2 separate regions of the Homo sapiens genome follow, and region 1 is linked to region 2. The links come from fine-mapping of genetic effects on gene expression. A gene starts in region 2. The other region holds a variant in brackets. All regions are shown on one strand. Distances are between the middles of the regions.

The links. PIP is the estimated chance that this variant, and not a neighbour inherited with it, causes the effect. A credible set is the group of variants that fine-mapping cannot tell apart.
Region 1: its variant is the best candidate, but not a certain one, in a credible set for the expression of TMEM97 in subcutaneous fat (FUSION, PIP 0.77).

The regions. Positions count from the first base shown.
Region 1 is chr17:28,390,509-28,393,414 of GRCh38, reverse strand. All of the region lies in intron 7 of SARM1 (sterile alpha and TIR motif containing 1), which reads right to left. Among named protein-coding and RNA genes, the nearest start is that of SLC46A1, 14 kb to the left of the region's middle. The variant C/AAC (reference allele first, on the strand shown) is at 1,535.
Region 2 is chr17:28,317,560-28,320,465 of GRCh38, reverse strand. It overlaps TMEM97 (transmembrane protein 97), which reads right to left and starts at 1,266. Exons shown (of 3, transcript NM_014573.3): 1 at 1,101-1,266. The coding sequence starts at 1,226. RefSeq lists enhancers at 1,143-1,202, 1,683-1,942, 2,162-2,906.

The DNA.
Region 1 (2,906 bases), 73 kb before region 2:
CATGTCCGGCTAATTTTTTGTATTTTTTAGTAGAGATGGGGTTTCACCATGTTGCCCAGGCTGGTCTCAAACTCCTGGCCTCAAGTGATCCTCCCACCTTAGCATCCCAAAGTGTTGGGATCACAGGCCTGCACTACCACACTCGTTCCTCTGTTTTCTAATATATAAAGCAGGATTAATGATAGTCCCTGTCTTCAGGATTGTTCCATGGAATAAGCGCAACATTCCATGGCAAGTAATTAGAACAGTGCTTTGCATGCAGTGTATGCTTAATACGTAATAGGTGTTATTATTTCCTCTTCTGTAAAGTGGGGATAATAAAACCTACCTCAAAGCGTTGTTCTGAGGAATTATTTGCTAGTAATCGGGTTCCATTAAGTGCTTATTGAATGTTTTTCTTCCTCTCAAGAGGGAACCAAAGGGATTTTACTTTTTTGAGTGCAGTTCACTTGTGGTTTTTCCCTATTGATTACCCACTAATGTGGCTTCAGGGAAAGGAGTTTTAAAACCAGAGGCAATTAAGCACCAGAAACAACCAAAGAGGGATGACGGAGCCTCTGGGGCCGGTCCAAGACAAAGGCTCCTCTCACCTCTTTGCCATCTGCTGGGACGACAAGGGGTGCCAAGCATTCTTGGGAAGTGGAGCCTTCCTGGGGAAAGAACATGCGTAACTTCGTCCTTGACTGGCTTCCTGGGGAGCCGCTCCATTTTACAGATGGAGAGAAAAAAGCCCAGAGAGGAAGGGATTTCCTCCTAAGCCACACACACGCCCAGCCCACGAGGGGCCGGTCCTCTGACTCAAGCCTCGAGAGTCCAAGTCCAGGCTGTTTCAGCCAAGCCCTGCTGCCTTTCTGCTGAGCATTGGAATGAATCCTGAGCCTGCAGCAATTTATTTGGAAATTTTTAGAAATTTGTTTCATCCAGAATTATACAAAACCAAAGACAGTACAAATTATTCATCGCACAGATTCAGAGGCTGGCCAAGAAAGGGATAATGGCGGCCGTGTGTGGTGGCTCATGTCTGTAATCCCAGCACTTTGGGAGGCCAAGGCGGGCGGATCACGAGGTCAGGAGATCGAGACCATCTTGGCCAAGATGGTGAAACCCCGTCTCTACTAAAAATATATATATATAAATTAGCTGGATATGGTGGCGTGTGCCTGTAGTCCCAGCTACTCAGGAGGCTGAGGCAGGGGAATCACTTGAACCCGGGAGGCGGAGGTTGCAGTGAGCCGACCAAGATCTCACCACTGCACTCCAACCTGGTGATAGAGCAAGACTGTGCCTCAAAAAAAAAAAAATAATTAAATAAATAAAAGAAAGGGATAATGGTTTGTTCAGGATCACCTAGCTGGTTGAGAACGAAAACAATTAGAGTCAAGTCCTCTGGCTGGGCACGGTGGCTCATGCCTCTAATCCCAGAACTTTGGGGAGCCGAGGCAGGCACTGAACTCCAGGCTTGAGCTCAGGAGTTCGGGACCAGCCTGGGTGACATAGCGAAACCCTATCTCTACTGGAAAAAAAAAAAAAAAAA[C/AAC]GGAGTCAAGTCCTCTAACCTGGTAAATCTACTAGATATGTATGGCTCTCCCAGGCATGGCATCTCAGCTTCATCAGTATCACTTGTCTGCTTAATCATTGATTCAATTGTTCTATAAACTCCTCTACAGCCTCAGCCTCTCTCTCTCTCTCTTTTTTTTTTTTTTTTTTTTTGGTGCAATTGCATAGAGCCTCCTTTGTACCATGCATGGTTTTAGGCACCAGGGACACAGATGAATGAGGCAAGGTCTGAAGTCTCATGGAGCTCACAGACACTCTTTTCTTTCTCTCAAAAGGCTGCCTGCCACGTGCTCTGGGTTATCAGCCATGTTCTTCCTGGATGCTCAACTGCCCCAGTGCCCCTCCCCAAACCAGGCCTAGTACTCAGCCCCTCCTACATGGCCTCTGGGGCTTGACTCCACACTCCATGTGGACTGCATTCCAGTGTCAGAGCCTTCATCCTAAGACCCACCGCCCTGGCATCTTCTCCTTCATGGGCTCCTTGATTTCCAGTGCTTTAAGCACAGGTCTTCTCCTGCCTTTAGACACTGCTTTACCTGGTTTCCATGGTTCTTATCCAGCCAGTGGTGTGCTGCTAACTTTATAGTAACTAGCTATTCATGGGGGAAGAAAACCCAACCAGCCAATCAACCAAACTAACAAAACTTTGATTTGTAGTGGTTGCCAATTTCCTTGGTGTAAATACTCCCACCATGGCTGATGACAAGCTACCAACATGACATCACTGGATGTGGAGTTGTGAAGAGATACAATCATCTCTGGTGTCAACCGAATCCAGCCCTACCCCATCACCTCCCCTCACACCCCCTCAGAGCTGTGCCATAGAATGCAGTGTGGATCTTGGGAAAGTGATGAGCTTTGGAGTCAGATAGATGGAATTTGAAGCCTAGCTTTTCTGATTTCTACACTAGTAGTGCAGCCAGGGGAACATTATTCTACTTTTCTGAGCCTCAGTTTCTTCATCTGTGATATGGAGAAAGCAGTACCAAGATGTATGTGGGCTTTCAGCACTGTTCTCCTCCCTACCTTTATTCCTTTGCTCATGCTGTTACCCTGGCCTGGGATGCCTTCTATTCCACTTACCCAGATTCTTAAGATTCTTCTCAAGACCTGCTTCCTCCATGAAGTCTTCCCTGATTATTCCAGTCCTTTGAGGACTAAACTCTGATTTTTTTTTTTTTTATCTTGCCCAAATTCCTACCTAAGGAGCCTAGGGAGTCATGCCCTACAAACCATAAAGTCTTATCGGAGGAGGTTTTAATTTTAACCCTATATAGCGTGGTCTGCTTTCTAACCTGACTCTAGCATAACATCACATAATAAGGGAGGAAATAAAAATATTTTAACCCCAA
Region 2 (2,906 bases):
TCCCATGCAAAAGGAGGTCAGAGGTCTTCCAGTTGTGTTTGGTTCTAGAAGCAAACAAAAAAGAGTGACTTATGGGAGTGGTAGAACATTCTTGAGCCGTGGCCTTTTTGGGAGAGTTAGGCCCCTTGAAAAGTCGATGGAAGCTATATTCTCCTTGCAGGAAACAAAAGGCACACACACTTGCACCCATTTTTGGGAGTTCATGACCCTCAGGTAAAGAACCCCTCCTCGGCAGATAAAAAGCATTTAAGGAAAAACAGACGCAAAATAAAATCTTCGGGTAGACAAGTCAGTCCTGCCTACAGTTATAGATAAGATGGAGAAACAAAACTGAGGACAGGAATTCCATGGAAGAAGGTCACAGGGTCCAGATACGAGAAAAAAACCTCAACGAACCGGGAAACTAAAACTATAGCTTTGAAGAAAAAAACAAAGCATTAAAGCAGAGTTTGGGGTTGAAAGAATGCTCTCCAACAACCAGGAAATCGGGATTTTCACCTTTATTTTTACTCAGGAGATCATTGTTACTCGAACCCAATATTGAAGAGCCAATCTGAAAAGATGGCAATTTACTCCTGAGCTCTGGAAGTTGCTGGAACCTGATCTCGAAGCAGTGACGATCTGTGAACGCCCCAGCTGCACCAACCAAGGTGCTAAACCTTCAGACAGGTCTATTTCTACTCGGATTTTTTCTTTGGGATCAGACTGGTATTTTAAAGCCCTTCCAAACAAACAAACAAAAAACCAGAAGCTTAAAGCAAACCTAACATGTGACTTTGGACACCACTTCATCCAGACTACTTCCCTCAGACACTGACAACCGGCCAGAGGTGGAATCGCGGGAAACCTTAAACCCAGGGAAGAAGTGACTTTAAAGGAAACAAAGCGTTCGCCCCCGCCGCTTGGGAGAAGGGGCTGGGATAGAGACAAAGCCCGAGGAAAACACCGAACTAAAGTTGGGTTAGGAGCGGGGGAGGCATGGGCAGGACCCGAGAGAGGCAACTGGAACCCAGAGTGCGCGAGCGCGGAGGAGGTGAAGGCCCTGTGGACGCAGCGCCGGGAGAGCCTCAGCGGGCCGGGATAAGAGGGGCGCCCCTCACCTCGACTGGGTAGAGCTCGCGCGGCAGCACCGCCTGCAGGTCCATGAACAGGGTGATGGGGATGTGGCTGAGGAAGTAGAGGCCCAGCAGCCACTCCACGCAGCGCCTGGTTGCCGGAGCCCCCATAGTCTGTCGGTTGGGCCTGGACCCGCTGATGTGAGAAGAGGGGCCAAATCCGCGCGCCTTCCCAGACCCACGCGCCTCGGTCGCCGCCTTGCCCCCGCGAGGGCTAGGCAGACCGCTTCCATTGGCTGGCGAGAAGAGGAGGCTCGTGGACAGGGGGCGGCACTCCCCACAGGGCGCACCCATTGGTCCGTATAAGTATAGCGCGTGGAGAAGGCGTCTCGTAAGCCATTTCCATTGGCCGCCAGGAGCGCCGTGTGGGCGGGGCTTAGTCACGCCGTTCGGCGCGCGGCTACTCAGTGTAGATTGCGGTTGTGAGCGCGAGCCTAGCGTTTCGGTGCTGGCCGCGTGGTATCCTGGTGTCCCGGCAGCTGCCGGCGGCGCTCCCTTCCCTCGTGGCTCCGTTCGCCACTACAACAGCAGTATGAAAACTGCACTGGCCCTTGGGCCTTCTGCAGTAAGTCAGCATTAAAAAAATAAAGCTGACGCTGTGCACGGTGGGTCATGCCTGTAATGTCTGCACTTTGGGAGCCCGAGGCAGGAGGATGGCTTGAGCCCAGAAGACCAGCCTGGGTAACTTAGTAAGACATTATCTCTACAAAAAATAAAAAATTAGCCAGGTGTGGTGGTGTGCACCTGTAGTCCTAGCTAGTTCGTGTACTAGTGACCAGCGCCTGTGCTGGGCCGCGGTACCCCGGTGCAGTGCGGCCGTCACGGAGCAGGGGTCGCAGAGCGGGGCACGAGCGCCGCGGTGCAGGTTCCCGGCCCAGCCGGGGTTGCGGGTCTGGGGAGGCAGCTGGCCGCGGTGAACAAAGAAGCAGAGGGGAGGACTCGAGGGACGTAGGAGGCAGTAAAATGGACAGGAATCCTCACCGGCTGTGGAGCATGAGGGAAGGTCAAGGATTCGTTTACACGTTCAGCAAATACTGATGTTCATCTCCACGCTGGGCGCAGGCCTGTCTCGGGGCAGGATCGCCGAGGCTGCCATTTGCTAAGAGGGGACACAGGGCAAGGGAGTGCGAGGAAGGAATGCAGCTTGGACTACGTGGACCTTGAGTGGGCTGCAGCGTTGGGTGGAGGAGGCAGTTGGGTGAGCCTGTCTGGAGTCGTAAGCTTGTGAGGCATCCGCCTTTGATGGCGAGCAGAGGGCCTGGGAGAGATCCTGGGGGAGCTCCAGCCTCAGGTCATGGGAGGAGGGGACTGAGATAGGAGCGTACTAGCAGGGGGCTATGTCACAGGGAGGGGCAGCCTGTCAACACTGAGTGATGCCCGCCTGTGGCCCTGTGGGGAACAGTTGTGTCGTGGGGGCAGGAGCCAGGGAGTAAGAAAGTGGGGAAATGGAGGCAGGAAGTGTAGACAGCTGGTCACGAAGGGGAGAAGACATGGGGCAGTAGCTGGAGAGAGATGCACTCGAGAGTTTATTTTGCAGGTGAGAAAGACTTGAGCTAGTTTAGTTTTGACAGTGGGAGAGGTTACCCCTACTCGAGAAGAGCAGGAAATGCGGCTCAAAGCCCTGGAGGAGGCGGAGGGAATGGAAGGATTGGGGTGGGTTAGGTGGGTGCACTGCGCTCCGCCCAGCTTCCCCTTCCCTTGGGGCGCTGTGGGCTAGGACAGAGGGATTATGGCAGTGTTGAAGGCCCAGCTGAGGTGGGGGGCCGCTGACCCGGAGGCCCCAATCTCTTA